Regions from separate parts of the Homo sapiens genome. Here region 1 is linked to region 2. The links come from fine-mapping of genetic effects on gene expression. A gene starts in region 2. The other region holds a variant in brackets. All regions are shown on one strand. Distances are from middle to middle.

What was found. PIP is the estimated chance that this variant, and not a neighbour inherited with it, causes the effect.
Region 1: its variant is fine-mapped to the expression of IL17RE in tibial artery (GTEx, PIP above 0.99). The same link has a PIP of 0.9 or more in aorta.

Annotation. Positions count from the first base shown.
Region 1 is chr3:9,860,179-9,869,382 of GRCh38, forward strand. It overlaps CIDEC (cell death inducing DFFA like effector c), which reads right to left. Exons shown (of 7, transcript NM_001321142.2): 7 at 6,536-7,118. The coding sequence ends at 6,956. Among named protein-coding and RNA genes, the nearest start is that of CIDEC, 15 kb to the right of the region's middle. RefSeq lists silencers at 2,507-2,801, 3,907-4,201. The variant G/A (reference allele first, on the strand shown) is at 4,685.
Region 2 is chr3:9,899,061-9,908,264 of GRCh38, forward strand. It overlaps IL17RE (interleukin 17 receptor E), which reads left to right and starts at 3,788. Exons shown (of 16, transcript NM_153480.2): 1 at 3,788-4,004; 2 at 4,337-4,352; 3 at 4,972-5,091; 4 at 7,304-7,401; 5 at 7,646-7,805; 6 at 7,901-8,040; 7 at 9,179-9,204. The coding sequence starts at 3,873. RefSeq lists an enhancer at 3,992-4,661.

The sequences.
Region 1 (9,204 bases), 39 kb before region 2:
CAGCAAGGCCTGCAGAAACTGATTTGCTCATCCAATTTGGGGAACCTGAGCTCCCTGCTGGGCAAGCCTGATGGTTTCACAGCTGCCCATGATGGTTTCCTCGGCAACTTCAAATCAGACTCTGCTCCTTAGTTGCCAGCACCTTTACTAAAGAAGGTGGGGGCGGTGGGCAGAAAGCATGGGGGTGTCGTGTCATGGTGACAGGTGTAAGGAGAAGGCAAAGAGTTTTCCACTTCCATTGATGGTAGCAGTGGCGGCCACCTGACCCAGGGCACCATCTCTTCCTCCTGTTTGTCCCCTGCTTCCTCTGCCCTGCCACCTCCCCCTTCCTCCCCAATGAGGTCACTGCAGTTCTCTCTCCACCTTTCCAAGATAGATGCAGGTTGCTGCTCTCCTGAGGTCCCCACTAAGGCTGTGGCTTCTGATCCCCGCTGATCTCTTGGATTTTATTTCCCTGGCCCCCTCCCCCACCTCCTTTCTATTTGTCCCACCCCCATCCCCACCTTCCTCTGCCATTCCTAATCCTCCCATCCTGATTCCTCTTCTAGGTTTTCTCTGGCTAAATTATCTTTTTTTTTTTTTTTAGTAGAGACGGGGTTTCACCGTGTTAGCCAAGATGGTCTCGATCTCCTGACCTCATGATCCGCCCGCCTCGGCCTCCCAAAGTGCTGGGATTACAAGCGTGAGCCATTGTGCCCGGCCTTTCTTTTTTTCTTTTTTTTTTTTTTTTTGAGATGGAGTCTCATTCAGTCCCCCAGGTTGGAGTGCAGTCGTGCATTATCAGCTCACTGCAACCTCCAGCTCCCAGGCTCAAGCCATTCTCTTGCCTCAGCCTCCTAAGTAGCTGGGACTACAGGCAAGCACCACCACACCTGGCTAATTTTTGTATTTTTGGTAGAGAAAGGGTTTCACTATGTTGGCCATGGTGAACCGGGTGATCTGCCCGCCTCTGCCTCCCAAAGTGCTGGGATTACAGGCATGAGCCACCATGCCCTGCCAATTTTCTTTATTATATACTTGCTAATATCTGTCTCCTTACCCACCCCCCACCCCCCACCAGACCTTGTTTTGTGCAACACAGAATGATGAAAATCTAGAAACAGGAATCTCACTCTTGGCCCTAGCCAGGACTCAGGTTTTGTGAAGCGGGCTGGGGCAGGTGGAAAAGCAAGCCCCACCAAACCAACACCTAGCCTAGAGCCTGAGCGAAGTGCCACTCAAAACACAGCTCCTCCCTTTACTTTCCTGTAACCCGAGAATTCTTCCTGAAAAAGGTGGCCCCTGAGAACAGTCTAAAAGTGTCACAGGGTGGAGGGGCAAGGGTCCTGAGAGCTGGTCTTGCCATCTCTTGTCCCCAGTTTTCTTGAAGAAGTTGAGCTCCAGAGAAGAGGCAGGGCCAGTGGGGCATTTGGATTACGCTCCAAGTCTGATTCCTAGTCCAGCAATCCTGCCCCCAGAGGCTCCCTTTATCTGTCCCCTTGGCCAAGGAAGGGGCAGTCACCCCCTGCCCCCTGCCTGGCCACAGACAAAAACCATCAGAAGGCTGTCTGTGGGGCCCCAGAACCATGTGGTAATCGCCTAAGGAGTTGGAGCCCTTTAGCCTCAAGAAGAGGGTGGGGGACACAGCACCCTTCTGAAACCTAAACCACATTCTGGCCTGAGCCGTTTTACACTGTCTGTGCAAAGGTTGTGAGGGCCTCTAAGTGGGTCCTCTTGTTTCCCTGTCTTCTGAGGCCCAGGGCTTTCTCAGGGCCTCCGTGGGTCCCCCCCCTGCACCCATCACATAGAGCCTGGGTCCTGTCTGCCAGGCTCACACTCCCCACACCCATCTTGCTGTCCTATTTCCATCCCTACGACAGCCCCCTGGGCACTGCCAGTCCCTCTCTTAGAAGACTTTCACAGGCCCTGCCCTTCCGTTTTGTCAATCTAGTTAATGGCACCTTCTCCTAGAGAAGCCCTCCCTGAGCATCTCATCTGCAGTAGGGTCACCCCCATCTTCCACCCTCACTTTTCCTGGTGTTTCCTTCCTAGCCCGTCCCTATTGGGAGTTTTCTGCACTTACAGACCAGTCTCTCTCGCCCACCCGGGGGCCAGCGTGTCTGTCTTCTCTGTCCCAGCACACTGAATGATTATTTGTTGGTATAAATGAAACAGGAAGGCCCCTGAGGTGCTGGGACTGGCAGCCCTTCACCCCAGGTGAGGAAGGAGCCTTGAGGAAGGGGAGAGGACCAGAGTTAGTGGCCTTTCCCCACCCTGAGGGTCAGCCCCGGGCAGGGCGGGTCACTGAGTCTTGGGGGACCTGATGCCTGTGCCCTTGATGGTGGCCCGCAGGGGACGCAGCCGCACTGGGTCAGCTGTGGTCCTGGGGCAGTCGCGTCCAGGCAGGCGGCACTTAGGAAGGACAAACTCCAAAACCCAGGGATCCAAAGGATCCATGGGAAGATCGGGTGGCTCAGGGGAGTGACTCCCCGGCTTGGTCGGCGCTTTGAGGCCCCGGGGACCCAGCGGAGAGGGCTCGGGTGAGGCATCTGGAGGCGCTGAATGGGGCCGGGAGCCGCGGGACCCGCAGAGGGCGCCTGTCCGTGTGGGCGCAGCAGCGCCTAGAGGGAGGCGGCCCCGGCAGCCCGCAGGGGTCAGGCTCTGCTGGAGCAGGGGCGTCCCTGTCTCCGCTTCCCAGCGCAGGCTGGGTGGGGCCGATGGCCATTAAAGCCCCGCCCCCCGCGGCTCACCGCCGCCTGGCCCCGTCCCCGAGGCCAGAAAAGAGGAGACCCGAGGCCGTCAGACCGCCTGTCAAGGGCTGTCCTGGAGCCTGGCACCTTCCCCTCGCTCCCCGTCTGACCCCCAGAGGCCGTGCTGTCCAGGCTGACCCCGACTCTGAGCCATCGGGATGCCTGTCCACGCCTCCACTCCTGGGCCACTTCCCCGTGGGGCGAGCAGAAGGGCGGGCCGGGTGGGAATCTGTTGTACCCAGGGAAGGGAATTGCCAACAGGCCCAGAGAGTTTGAAGCCTGGGGTACTGTCACCAACAGGCCAGTAGCCTCGCAGCTGGGCCCTGCCCTAGAGTCTTCCTGCAGCAGGGCGCTTCTCCGGAGGAGCTGTGAATGTTTTCCCGGGTGGGGCTGAAGCCAGAGCCCAGAGGTTTGCCCCTGGGGCACGGATCCTCCAGGTCACTCGCCCCCCTACGGGCTGCAGTGAAGAAGGCTCTGAGGGGAGGATGGCCAGCGCCTCCCCTGCAAGGATAGGGGCCCCTGGGAACCCATTCCTGCTCTGGGGATTGCCTCCCTCCCCTACATCAGAGCCATCCACCGCAGAAGCTTGGCCAAGCTGACCACTCTGTCAGTGATCTCTGCCAGGGAGGCTGAAAGAACATCCAGCCCCACCCGTGGTCCCTTCCCGCCTCAGGCTATGTGACAGTATGACTCTCCACCTATTTCTTCGTTTCCACTGGAAACACTAGTAAAACAATTCCTCAGCCTCGACCCCAGGGAGCGGCCCCCACTAAACCAGCTGACGTGGGACCCCTGGGTCAATGCTGGCCAGGAGATGCGGCTGACATCAAAGACCCTGGGCCCCTGGGCCCCCTACAACCCTGGTCACGGTGGCCATGGGATTCCAGGCAGCACACATCTCAGAATCAGTATTTCCCCCACCCCACAAAAAATACATATATGGGTCGGGCGCGGTGGCTTGCGCCTGTAATCCCAGCACTTTGGGAGGCCGAGGCCGGCGGATCACGAGGTCAGGAGATCGACACCATCCTGGCTAACACGGTGAAACCCCGTCTCTACTAAAAATACAAAAAATTAGCTGGGCGTGGTGGCGGGTGCCTGTAGTCCCAGCTACTTGGGAGGCTGAGGCAGGAGAATGGCATGAACCCGGGAGGCGGAGCTTGCAGTGAGCCGAGATCACACTACTGCACTCCAGCCCAGGCGACAGAGTGAGACTGCGTCTCAAAAAAAAAAAAATTATATGCACAAATATGGGCATCGCTGGTAAGAAGAGTGGCAAAAACACAAGTGGTTCTCTTGTTTTGGGCTCAGACATGTGACTGTGGCATCACAGGCCCCCGGGATTTAGAATTCTTCTGAAAGGCATCCTGTGCACTCCCGAGCACCAGCTTGAACAGATGAAAAGGCTGAGCTGGAGGGGCTGGGACACAGTCCACCTTGACGACAGCTGCTCCTGGCTGTGCGGGGGGCCCCAGGAAAGGCCGTTCCCCCACTAGGACCGCCAGGCCCTACAGAGGCTCAAACTCCTTTGCTGTTTGGAATCTTCCCTCCCCAGCCCCCAAGCCTCATCAGAGGCTGCCTTTTCTGTTCACTGACCACAGCTGCTTTGACTCCATTAGCCTCGAGCTCCTGGAAGAAAAGAAAGAACCTTGTTTTCCCTGGGCTCAATGCCAAGAGACCATGGGCAGTTGCTCAAGATTCACTTGTGAAACTCCGGATCTCAGGAGGAGGGAAGCTTGGGACAAATACCGAGCCTCCCACCCCCACTCCAACTCTGTTACTGAGCACTTTACGGAAGGAGCAGGTAGGCCCCGCCACAGCTTCATCAAGGGTGGACTGGGATAGCTTCTGTGCTAATACAAACATCAGGCCTCCCTGCCAGACAGCCCACCCCATGGAGCCAGCCTGGCACCGGGCCAGCCTCCAGCCATAACTGCAAAAGAGCAGGAGAGCCC[G/A]GAATAGCAGGCCCTCTTCAGCGAGCTTCAGCCGCTTTGCCCATAGGCTGCAGGGTTTGGGTCCGCTGCCATAAATAGCTCCCAGACCATCTTTGGTAATATAGGCCTTTGCCTTAGTATTTACTACATCCAAATAGGCTTTATAGTAAGAGTAGTGAAACAATAGGTTTTGTTTTGTTTTTCGTTTTTTGTTTGTTTGTTTCTTTTTTGAGACGGAGTCTCACTCTGTCGTCCAGGCTAGAGTGCAATGGCACAATCTCGGCTCACTGCAACCTGCACCTCCCAGGTTCAAGCAATTCTCCTGCCTCAGCCCCCCGAGTAGCTGAGATTACAGGTGCCCACCACCATGCCCGGCCAATATTTTGTACTTTTAGTAGAGACGGGATTTGGCCATGTTGGCCAGGCTGCTCTCAAATGCCTGACCTTGTGATCCACCCGCCTTGGCCTCCCAAAGCGCTGGGATTACAGGCGTGAGCCACTGCGGCTGGCTGTGATAGAGTTTTTGAATCCTCTTTTTTTTTTTTCCCAGAGACAGGCTCTCACTCTGTTGCCCAGGCTGGAGTGCAGTGGCACAATCATAGCTCACTGCAGCCGCGACCTACTGGGCTCCAGTGAACCTCCTGCCTCAGGCTCCTGAGTAGCTGGGACTACAGCCACCATGCTCTGCTAATTTTTTTTTATTATCTAGTGTAGAGACAGGGTCTGGCTATGTTGCCCAGGCTGCTCTTGAACTCCTGGCCTCAAGCGATACTCCTGCCTCAGCCTCCCAAAGTGCCGGGATATCCGGCATGAGCCACTGCACCTGGCCAAGTTTTTAAATCTTTCAGTCACAGACTAAATAAAACAGTCACCTACAAGTTCTACAAGTTCAGCCTTTTTTTTTTTTTTTTGAGATGGAGTCTCGCTCTGTCACCCAGGCTGTAGTGCAGTGGCACGATCTTGGCTTACCACAACCTCTGCCTCCCAGGTTCAAGCGATTCTACTGCCTCAGCCTCCCAAACAGCTGGGAGTACAGGCGCCTGCCATGCTGGCCAGCTAATTTTTTTGTTTTTAATAGAAACCGGGTTTCACCATGTTGGTCAGGCTGGTCTTGAACTCCTGACCTCAGGTAATCTGCCTGGCTCGGCCTCCCAAAGTGCTGGGATTACGGCGTGAGCCACCATGCCCAGCCTAAGTTCAGCCTTTCATGCTTGTCTTGAGTTGTCCAATACTGGAAAATGCCAGCTCACACTGATGAGAAGCTCCTACTCTTTGGGGCTACCTATGAGCCCACTTTGAAATCCCGAGGTTGAAAGTCCTGAACATGAAAGATAAGCTGTCTGGCAAGTTAGGATGGGCATTGATGGAGAAATGCCTTACAGCTTGAGTAGTACTTTTTCACCTAACCACTTAAACGGTTATTATAAAATGGGACACTGAGAAATTAGAAGAGTGACTTAATCCCACCTGCTCAATTGAAGCTCCTCTGATAGGTGAATTTAATTAGGAAATTGTTACTTATGGTATCAATTACATGGTCAGCTCAAGCCTCAAATTCAGCTGACTTTAGTTTCAAAATCAACTGCAATTTTGTTTTTTAAGGAGCCTGGGGTCTTGCTATTGTGCTCCAGCCTGGCCTTGAACTCCTGGTCTCAAGGGATGCTTCCACCCCAGCTTGCTGAGTATCTGGGACTGCAGGCACGTGTCACTGTGCCCAGCTGTTTTTTTTTTTCTTCTTTGGTAGAAAAAGTGCCATTAGCTGTAATCCTACATTAAAGAGAATACTTTGACAATAGATTCGTCTCTTCCTTTAGCCCCCTCCAACCTTCCAGATAAAACCCCACCCCAAAGAACACAGGCAAAGAAGATACATCAGCCTCAATAATTTATTGCAAACTCCCTAATATCACATGCTAGTGCGCTTGCGAATTCACTCAGGAATGTTCCGGGATGGGGGCCAGAAGGTAGAGAGCACCATGAAAGTACAGCCTGCGAGGCCAGATTGCTAAGGGGCAGACTTCATGCCAATGGAGGGACAGACTTCAGGACCAGTCTGGATGGGCTAAGCTGCCTTGGGCAGGAAGGAGCTGGATCAGGCCAGGAGCTTGAGGTTCTCCTTTGGCCAACCCACCCCAGGTTTCCAGCTCCTCCTCCTCACTCAGGGTCCTGCGCGGTGAGGGAGGTGTGGGGAGGTTCGCGGCTCTACAGCTGCCAGGCTTGTGGGCACTACCAGTTAAGCGTGAGGCCCCCAGTCAGTCCTTCACTGGGGAAAGCTTCCAAGGACTTGGGCTTTCACTGCAGTATCTTCAGACAGGTCGGGATAAGGGATGAGGCCTTGCCCTTGGGGGGCTGCCCTTCCTCCGTAGCATCGAGGAGCTGCTGCAGGTAACAGGAGGTGCCAAGCAGTACGTGGCCTGTGGCCTGCATGCTGAAGAGGGCCCAGCGGAAAGCTTCCCTGGGTGGAATGAGAGGGCACGCAAGTCAAAACCACGAAGTAGGTCGGGCATGGCGTTCACGCCTGTAATCCTAGCACTTTGGGAGGCCATGGAGGGCGGGTAACCTGAGGTCAGGAGTTTGAGACTAGCATGGCCAACATGGCGAATCTCTGTCTCTACTAAAAATACAAAAACTAGGCAGGCATAGTGGTGGGTGACTGTAATCCCAGTTACTCCAGAGCCTGAGGCAGGAGAATCGCTTGAACCCAGGAGGCGGAGGTCACAGTGAGCCGAGGTGGCACCACTGCACTCCAGCCTGGGTGACAGAGCAAGATTCAGTCTCAAAAAACAATCAAACAAAAAACACAAGGCTGGGCTTGGTGGCTCATGCCTGTAATCCTATAACTTTAGGTGGCCGAGGTGGGTGGATCATTTGAGGTCAGGAGTTTGAGACCAGCCTGGCCAACATGGCGAAACCCCGTCTCTACTAAAAAATACAAAAAATTAGCCGGGCGTGGTGGCAGACACCTGTAATCTCAGCTACTCGGGAAGCTGAGGCACGAAAATCACTTGAACCTGGGAGACAGAGGTTGTAGTGAGCTGAGATTGTGCCACTGCACTCCAGCCTGGGTGACAGAGTGAGTCTCTGTCTCAAAAATAAATAAATACATAATAAATAAAAACAAGAGTGTACCCCCTCCCTGCACCCCCTTATTCCCATGCTGGCCTGGAAGGGATTGGTTTCATTATGTTTGTTTTCTTCATTAATAACATTTGAATACCACTGAGGTGGTAGCACTAAAAGCATTTCATCAATTCTAGAGCGATGTGCAAATAGGAACAGATGCTGCAGATGGGATCAAGATTAGTGCGAGGACCTGCAATTCCACCTTAACTGAGATGCCCGGAACCTCCCTACTTTCTCATGCAAAACCCCAGCTCATTTCATAAGGCTTTTATTTTTCTACTACTACTTTGGACCAACCAGATTAATCTCCATAACATGGTTCTGCACCTTGAGACACTCTGTTCTAGACTCTGAGGCCTGTCCAAGCCACCTGCAGTCTAGCTCATGTTCAGAGTGCTGGACATGAAGACATCCATGCCTGGCATGAGCATGTACTGAGAACAGAACCTGAATCAGGCAGGCCTAAGTCCTAATCCAGTCTTATTAGCTGGGTGAACTTCAGCAAACTGCTCTAGCTTTGAGCTTCAGCTTCCTCATGGGTAAAATGGGATTGCACCTGCCACCCAGGGTCATAAGGCTGAAATAGCATAAAGCAATTAACATGGGGTTGGATGTTTGGAAAGTAGGGGAAATGGGGAAGCGGGAGCGGGTTCTAACCTCACATATTCTCATGCTTCTTGAGACATTTGGTTAGACTTTCAAAAATAAGTTTTAAGAAAAGTTCATTATATAGTACAAATGACTCTGGTCCATAAGACTTGCAAATTAATTCTGTCATATGGAGGGAAGATTATTTCATCCCTCCCATTCCCACAGGGGAAAAAGCCCAATTTTGTATGTATACATTTATCTCTCTTTTTCTTCGTTTTAGAGACAAGGTCTCATGCTGTTGCCCAGGCTGGAGTACACAGTAGTATGGTCATATCTCACTGCAGCCTCAAACTCCTGGGCTCAAGCAATCCTCCCACCTAGCTGGGATTATAGGTACATACTACCACTGCCAGCATTTTGTGTGTGTGTGTGTGTGCGCACACACGGGCGTGTGATAAAGACAGGGTCTCACTGTGTTGCCGAGGCTGGTCTCAAACTCATGGGCTCAACAGATCCTCCTGCCTTGACCTCCCAAAGTGCTGGGATCCCAGGTGAGAGCTGCTGCACTCAACCTATCTCATCATTCTTCCTGGACCTGTATATATGTGGGATTTTGAAATCTCCTTTGAGCTGATTGTAACTTCTTGCTAGTTCTCTCATTAATTAATGAATTCAATTAAGTCTTTGACACGTGCTTTTTTTTGTTTTTTTTTCCGAGACAGTCTTGCTCTTTTGCCCAGGCTGGAGTGCAGTGGCAGAATCTTGGCTCACTGCAACCTCTGCCTCCTAGCTTCAAGCGATTCTCCTGCTTCAGCCTCCTGAGTAGT
Region 2 (9,204 bases):
GACTTCAGCTCTTAGGTGTGTGTGCTTGGACTTTACCTAATCTTCCTGAGTGTTTTGCAGTCTGTAAAATGGGGTAATAAGACTGTGAACTCAAGGGTTGTAGTACAAATAAAATAAACTGGGCAAAATGCATGACTCAGAGCCTGATAGTAGGATTTCAGCAAATGTTGATCCCATCCCTCCCCTTCCTTAGGTTGTGCCAGAATTCACCCCTGTGCTTCTTACCTTAAATACTTTTTGGAACAGTCTCTACAATAAATAAGTAAACCAGCAAGACAATAAATAAAATGCACACGTCCTTTTCTTTTTCCCCCTTTCTTCCTCACCTTTATTCCTTTTACTTTTCCAGCGGGTCCTGGAATGCTGTTTTTCTTCCCTTTCTTCCCTCTTTCCCTCTCTTCTCTCCTCCCATCCTCCTTCCCTCCCTTCCTCTCTTCCTCCGTCCCTTCCTCCCTCCCTCCCTTCTTTCCTCCCTTCCTCCTTCCCTCCCTGCTGCCTTCTCTCCCTCCCTCCTTTCTTCCCTCCCTCCCTTCTTTCCTTCCTTCCTTTTTTTCCCTTCCTCTCTTCCTTCTTATCTCCATTTCTTTTCTGCTTCTCCTCCCATACCTTAACCAGAAGCAATTAACCAATATTTTCTCTGTGAGAGATCAGAAGATAAGGGTAAAGAAGAAGGATTGTTTTGGAATAGAACCAAGTTTCTCACTTCATGCCTCCAGCATTAGAAAACTCATTATTTGGGCCGGGCGCAGTGGCTCACGCCTGTAATCCCAGCACTTTGGGAGGCCGAGGTGGGCGGATCACAAGGTCAGCAGATTGAGACCATCCTGGCTAACACGGTGAAACCCCCTCTCTACTAAAAACGCAAAAAATTAGCCGGGTGAGGTGGCGGGTGCCTGTAGTCCCAGCTGCTCGGGAGGCTGAGGCAAGAGAATGGCGTGAACCTGGGAGGCGGAGCTTGCAGTGAGCCGAGATCGCACCACTGCACTCCAGCCTGGGCAACAGAGCAAGACTCCGTCTCAAAAAAAAAAAAAGAAAACTCATTATTGGCCAGACACAGTGGCTCACACCTGTAATCCTAGCACCTTGGGAAGCTGAGGCAGGATAACTGCTAGAGGCCAGGAGTTTGAGACCAGCTTGAGCACCATAGCCAGACCCTATATGTAGCCAGGCAAAATGGTGTGTGCCTGTGAAGGGAGGATTCACTTGAGTCCAGGAGGTTGAGGCTGCAGTAAGTGGTGATTGCGCCATTGTCCTCCAGCTTGGGTGATAGAGTGAGACTCTGTCTCAAAAAAAAAAAAAGAAAAGAAAGAAACCTCATATTTATATAGCTCTAAACCACTGTGAGTTAGGTAGAATTTGGGGGAAGGCTCTCTAACCTATTCTTAGTATGGCCAGACCACCCTTTCCTCCTTTCAGATCTTACTGTTTTGTTTGCAGAGATGGACTTCAAGGCCAAAAGGCATACTGTGTTAGGGTCTGTGTCAGGCAGCCCCTTTTGGGTTCCAAGAGCAGAGGAAGATGAGGCTGTGTGAGGGAAGACCATAGGATGATAGAGAATTGGTACCGGGCACAGTGGCTCATGCCCATAATCCTAGCACTTTGGAAGGTTGAAGCAGGTGGATCACTTGAGGCCAAGAGTTCAAGACCAGCCTGGCCAATGTGGCAAAACCCTGTCTCTACTAAAAATACAAAAATTAGCCAGGCATAGTGGTGCACAGCTGTAATCCCAGCTACTCAGGAGGCTAAGGCACAAGAATCACTTGAACCTAGGAGGCGGAGGTTGCAGTGAGCCAAGAACACACCACTGCACTCCAGCCTGGGCAACAGAGCAAGACTATCTCAAAAAAAAAAAAAAAAAAAAAAAGCCAGGTGCTGTGGTTCATGCCTGTAATCCCAGCACTTTGGGAGGCCAAGCTGGGCTCAGATCACCTTAGGTCAGGAGTCCAGGACCAGCCTGGCCAACATGGTGAAACCCGTCTCTACTAAAAATACAAAAATTAGTCTGGTGTGGTGGCGTGCACCTGTAATCCCAGCTACTCGGGAGGCTGAGGCGGGAGAATCGTTTGAACCTGGGAGGTGGAGATTGCAGTGACCTGAGATTGCACCATTTGCACTCCAGCTTGGGTGACACAGTGAGACTCTGTCTCAAAAAAAAAAAAAAAAAAGAGAGAGTTGAGTTGCGAGGGCCTAGCAAAAGGGGAGCTCCCTGAACTATAGACTTTGACCTTGTCCAAATCATTATCCCTCTGCTTCCTTATCTCTCTATGAAATGAAAACAATAATTAACACTTACCTGTCTCACAGGTAGGGTTAGGAGGATTAAATATAAAAGTGTTTTGTGAAGTGTGAAACAGATAAACTACATAGATGAAATGTATCATGACATTTATTCAATTACACAGCACATACTTCATAATATCTACTGCTAGGCTTGGAGAAACATAAAGAATAAGAGTTTTTATCTTTTCATGAACTCAAAAAGCTAGAGGGTACTTTTAGGATAATGGGTAGGATGCAGCCTTCAGACAATGAACCTAAAGACAGGAATAGAATTGGCCAAAAGCAGGCTGTGGTTAGGCCACTGAAAGGTGGTCTAGATTGAATTGCAGGGGGACAATAACAATCTCAAGATGCCTTGGCTGGGCGCCGTGGCTCACGCTTGTAATCCCAGCACTTTGGGAGGCCAAGGTAGGTGGATCACATAGTCAGGAGTTCGAGACCAGCCTGGCCAATATGGTGAAACCCTGTCTCTACTAAAATACAAAAATTAGCCAGGCATGGGGCAGGTGCCTGTACTCCCAGCTACTCAGGAGGCTGAGGCAAGAGAATCGGTTGAACCCAGCAGGTGGAGGTTGCAGTGAGCAGAGATTGTGCCACGGCACTCCAGCCTGGGTAATAGAGCAAGACTCAGTCTCAAAAAAAAAAAAAAAAAAAAAAAAAAAGATGCCTTGACCTGGTAGGTGTGCCCCAAACTTTCTTTCCAGTGTGTGTGTTACCAAGGTGAGGGCTGAAGCTGCTCAAATGCTCCATGAAGGGGAGGAAGCTGTGGGATGATGGGGAGGGTTCCCACAAAGATGGAGCCTCGTCAGCCTTTCTCCAGCACCGGAAACCACAGGAAACCAGGTCAGTGTGTGGGGCCCGCTCCCTCTGCTCCAGGGCTCAGCTGTGAGCTCTGGGGCTTCCTGAGCAGGGCGTACTGACTAGTGGGTCCTTGAAGCTAGAGGCCCCTTTGGTATGGAGCCCTTTGCCTAGAAGAGCTGGACCTGGCTCATGGGTAGAGAGAACTCGGCTATAGTCCTGAGAGTTAACCAGTTGGGAAGCCAGGGTACATATGGGCTTCATGTGCATCCTAGAGTGCTTTTTTTCTTCCCCACTCTAAATGGTGCCTCAGTCACCTCTGTATCTCCAGCACCCAGTGCTGAGTAGTGCTTAAGAGCTCGGCTAATTCTCTAAGTGAGGGGGTGAAGCGCATGTCTATGGGAGACACAAGTTCCAGAGTGTGCTGATGGGTGGATCAGATCTGCAGTGTGTTTCAGGAGTAGGAGGGGCTAAGAAATGGGTGCGTCCCCCAACCTGATGCTAGCCCCTTTCCTGTTACTTCTCACCCACAGCAGGAGCCCCTTGTCTTTCAGGTGGGGGGCAGTAGGGTTTTTGGGGGCACAAGCTTTCCTCAGTCCCTCCACTTGGAGGGGAAGGAATGTGGCCTGGCTGGCTGGTTGGGATCAAGGAGGAGCTTTCGGGCAGGGCGGGGCCAGGGCAGGCTGGGGCGAGGGCTCCTGCTGGTACTGTGTTCGCTGCTGCACAGCAAGGCCCTGCCACCCACCTTCAGGCCATGCAGCCATGTTCCGGGAGCCCTAATTGCACAGAAGCCCATGGGGAGCTCCAGACTGGCAGCCCTGCTCCTGCCTCTCCTCCTCATAGTCATCGACCTCTCTGACTCTGCTGGGATTGGCTTTCGCCACCTGCCCCACTGGAACACCCGCTGTCCTCTGGCCTCCCACACGGTAAGGTGCTGCTGCCAGGTAGGGACACCTGCCTGGCACAGCCATAAAGCTCCCCACTCCCCTGCCTGCCCTGTGCTACCTCCGCAGTCCCTGTGCTCTGGTGGCAGCTTTGATGTGTCCTCTACCTAGTCTCAAAGGGGTAGCCAAGGTCCTTTGTGCTGAGGGCCTGGACAGGGTGGAGCTGGGAAGATAAGAGCCAGAAGGTATGGGCTATTAGCTATGGGGCTCAGAATTTGCTGATTTGAAGCAAAGACCCCAGGAATGTGCCTTATGGGAGTCTCTCCTAATAATAGCTCTTTCCTTTCTTTTCCCTACTGGGCCCTGTGCCTCAGGATGACAGTTTCACTGGTGAGTCGCATTTCCTGCCCCATTGCTCCTCCCCACGCCCACTATTTTTGCAGATGCCTAGCAAGCCCTCCATTCTAATTTTCAGTTCCCAACCCGGGAAGTAGCACAATATCAAGGAAAAATTTGGAATCATGACAAGCCTGGGTTCACATTGCAGTTCTGCCAGACTCCCGTGTGGCCTCAGACTGTGCACCTAACCCCTCCAACTGACCCTCAGTTTCTGAGGGGTAGTAGCATAGTAGAAATGATTGTACACTAAAGGCAGTGTTGCTTCTGATCTGTAGAGAGGATTAGATGAGAAACATGAGTAAATCTCCAGGTTCTCCATATATGTTGGCTCCTCCCCTTAACTGATCCCTCACTTCTATCAGTAATACAACAATAATCCTTCCTATTTTATGGTATGTTCTACTTCACAAGACATTTTCCCATACACTACAATTTTGATTTTTATAACAGACCCGCTTTATGAATGAGGAATCTGATCCTTAGACAGGTCCTGTAACCCCCAAAGTCATACTTCCAGGATGTGACAGAGCTTGGCCTCAAATCCAGCTTGTTGGAGGTAGGAGGGACCTTCTTAGACCCTATCATTTGCTTTCCCTTCCATCTTTCCCAGGAAGTTCTGCCTATATCCCTTGCCGCACCTGGTGGGCCCTCTTCTCCACAAAGCCTTGGTGTGTGCGAGTCTGGCACTGTTCCCGCTGTTTGTGCCAGCATCTGCTGTCAGGTGGCTCAGGTATGAGAAACAGCCCCTTGGGCCATTCTCAGTGAAGAGAACATTTTGAGGGACCACCTAGGCTGAGCAAGTGGGACTTACTAGAACAGATATTTGTCTTGTTTTAACCTCAACTGGGACTTGGATTATCCTAAAATAGCACGCTATGACTGATATTCACAAATACAATTGTACAATTTTATGAAGGTTTTTTTTCAGCTGAGATTCTTGGAATTAAAAGCTATGGATTTATTGTTATTACCATCTATTTGTAGAGCAGGATCTTCTTTCTTACTCTATATTTTAATTGCTCAGCTCAGTGCCTGGTACATACTAAATGCCCTTACATTGCTTAAGAATTGGCAGTTTCTAGGCCAGGCGCGGTGGCTCACGCCTGTAATCCCAACACTTTGGGAGGCTGAAGCAGCCTGATCACCTGAGGTCAGGAATTCGAGACCAGTCTGGACAACATTGTGAAACCCCTGTCTCCACTAAAAATACAAAAAATTAGCAGGGCCTGGTGGCAGGCACCTGTAATCCCAGCTGCTCAGGAGGCTGAGGCAGGAAAATCACTTGAACCCAGGAGGTGGAGGTTGCAGTGAGCCGACATCATGCCATTGCACTCCAGCCTGGGCGACAAGAGCAAAACTCCATCTCCAAAAAAAGAATTGGCAGTTTCTGGGCCAGGTATGATGGTTCACACCTGTAATCCCAGCACTCTGGGAGGCCAAGGTGGGTGGATCGCTTGAGTCCTGGAGTTTGAGACCAGCCTGGCCAACATGGCCAAACCCCATCTCTACAAAAAAATACAAAAATTAGCTGGATGTGGTAGTGCACACCTGAAGTCCCAGCTACTTGGGAAGCTGAGGTGGGAGGATCACCTGAATTCAGGAGGTGGAGGTTGCAGTGAGTTAAGATAGCGCCACTGCACTCCAGCCTGGATGACAGTGTGAGACCCTGTCTCAAAAAAAAAAAAAAAAAAAAAAAAAGAATAGGCAGTGTTTAATTTTTCTAATTGTTTGTTGTTAGAAATAATGCTACAGGGCTGGGCACAGTGGCTTATGCCGGTAATCCCAGTACTTTGGGAGGCTGAGGCGGGCAGATCACCTGAGGTCAGGAGTTTGAGACCAGCCTGGCCAACATGGTGAAACCCCGTCTCTACTAAAAATACAAAAATTAGCCAGGTGTGATGGTGCATGCCTGTAATCCCAGCTACTCAGGAGGCTGAGGTGAGAGGATTGCTTAAGCCCAAGAGTTCAAGACTGCAGTGAGCAGTGATTGTGCCACTGCACTCCAGCCTCCATGACAGAGCAAAATCCTGTCAAGAAAGGAAGGAAGGAAGGAAGGAACGAAGGAAGGAAGGAACAAAGGAAGGAATGAAGGAAAGAAAGAAAAGAGAGAGAGGCAGGGACTGGCGTGGTGGCTCACGCCTGTAATCCCAGCACTTTGGGAGGCTGAGGTGGGCAGATCTTGAGATCAGGAGATCGAGACCATCCTGGCTAACATGGTGAAACCCCGTCTCTACTAAAAGTACAAAAAATTAGCTGGGCGTGGTGGCAGGCGTCTGTAGTCCCAGCTACTCTGGGGGCTGAGGCAGGAGAATCGCTTGAAGCCAGGAGGCGGAGATTGCAGTGAGCCAAGATCGCGCCGCTGCACTCCAGCCTGCGTGACAGAGCAAGGCTCCGTCTCCAAAAAATAAAAATTAAAGAATGCTAAAATGAATATCTTTGTATATATAGCTTTTTCTCTGCTTAAGAAATTAATCTTTTCTTGATTGCTTTATAATTTTCAAGATTAAAGAAGCTTGACATCCTTACCCTCCTTGATTTAAAACGACTTACTATCAGGCCGGCTCATGCCTGTAATCCCAGCACTTTGGGAGGCCGAGGCGGGCGGATCACCTGAGGTTGGGAGTTCGAGACCAGCCTGACCAACACGCAGAAACCCCGTCTCCACTAAAGATACAAAATTAGCCGGGCATGGTGGCACATGCCTGTAATCCCAGCTACTTGGGAGGCTGAGGCAGGAGAATCACTTGAACTTGGGAGGTGGAGGCTGCAGTGAGCCGAGATCGCGCCATTGCTCTCCAGCCTGGGCAACAAAGAGCAAAACTCCATATCAAAATAAATAAATAAATAAAATAAAATAAAATTACTTACTAACACTGGGCCACATCTCCAGGCAGGGGAGGGGGTAATGAGGGCTAGATAGTAAGTACGTCTCCCCTGCACAGGTCTTCAACGGGGCCTCTTCCACCTCCTGGTGCAGAAATCCAAAAAGTCTTCCACATTCAAGTTCTATAGGAGACACAAGATGCCAGCACCTGCTCAGGTACTCTCCCTGTCAGTTCCAGCCCTACCTGACGCCCCACAGACCTTTGCTTTCTGGCCTCTCATTTGGTTCTCCAGCCATGTGAGACAGAAAGTGTGGAGATGAAGTATTCTGTCTATTACACAGCTAGGGAGGCCAAAAGAGTTTGAGCAACTTGCCTGTAGTACCTCAGGTTCCAGAGGCAGAAACAGAAGCCAGGTTTCCTGATTTCTGGCCTGAGGCCAACCTTGTTCTCTGCCTTTAGAGGAAGCTGCTGCCTCGTCGTCACCTGTCTGAGAAGAGCCATCACATTTCCATCCCCTCCCCAGACATCTCCCACAAGGGACTTCGCTCTAAAAGGACCCAACCTTCGGATCCAGAGACATGGGAAAGTCTTCCCAGATTGGACTCACAAAGGCATGGAGGTGGGCACTGGGTACAACAGGAGATGGGTTCAGCTGAGTGGTGGTACCAGTGCTAAGGCCAAGAGACAAGGCCACTGAGTCCTTCCTCTCCCCAGGACCCGAGTTCTCCTTTGATTTGCTGCCTGAGGCCCGGGCTATTCGGGTGACCATATCTTCAGGCCCTGAGGTCAGCGTGCGTCTTTGTCACCAGTGGGCACTGGAGTGTGAAGAGCTGAGCAGTCCCTATGATGTCCAGGTATGGTGTGTCATCCCCCTGTAAAAAGCCCGATCACACAGTGCTAGCAAAAGAGGCCACCCATTGTACAAATGAGGAAACTGAGGCCCAGAGAGGGATGGTAACTGTCCAAGACCTCCTTACAAGCTGAAGGGTCTATCATTAAGACTTCTTTGGGCGTGGCATGGTGGCTCACACCTGTGGTCCCAGCACTTTGGGAGGCCAAAGCAGGAGGATTGCTTGAAGCCAGGAGTATAAAACCAGCTTGGGCAACATAGTGAAACCCTGCTGCTAAAAATAAATAAATAAATTAATTAATTAATTAATTAAATTAAATTTAAAGACTTCTTTGGACTAGACAGAAAAGGCAGACGGCCTTGTCACCGGGAAGAACAGGAAAGGCAGGCAGAGACCTGGAGCAGCCATGAATGACCATGAATGAGCAGAGAGATTAGTATGGTATTTACCCCCAATGAGAGGATCCTCAGTGTGATTCAGGCATTAAGAAGCCTTTCCTTGAGCTTCAAGTTAGTGACAAGTAAGAAAAAAGAATTGTTAATTAAAAATTTAAAAAGCCTTTTCAGCTCCCCTAAGAGGTTGTATCGCCTAAGAACATAACAAAATGATCACATCTGTCTTGGTACCCTTCCATCTCCCTCCCTTTGTTCCTGCCACTCAGAGAGTGATATGTCTCCCATTCTCCCAACCTGGGCCCCAGCATCCCACCTCAACCTCCCTTTGTCATGGATGCCATTGTATACAGTTGGTAGCATTTGCAGGGACTGCTGTTGAACCCCTGAGGCCCTCAGCTTATCATTTTTATAACAGTGAGGATACCTCATAAGATCACTGTGATGCTAGCATGGAGTTAATTGATTTAATACTTCTAGCACCCTCTACACTCCCTGGCATATAGTAGGGCCTCAATAAAGGAATGTATTCCCTGTCTCCTTCCCCCCAACTCCACCTAGAGCACCTAGAGCTAATGATTAGATTACTAAGCAGACAACCTTTGAGAGACTTATCAGGAGAAGAAGTATCTCATATTAGAGGAAAAACAGGGTGTGTTGGCCAAGATCCCAGCACTGTTCTGCCCTTGTCTATGTGCCCATGCTCTTTCTCAGGCATCTTTTGTCTTCCTTTGCTGTTTCATCCACAGAAAATTGTGTCTGGGGGCCACACTGT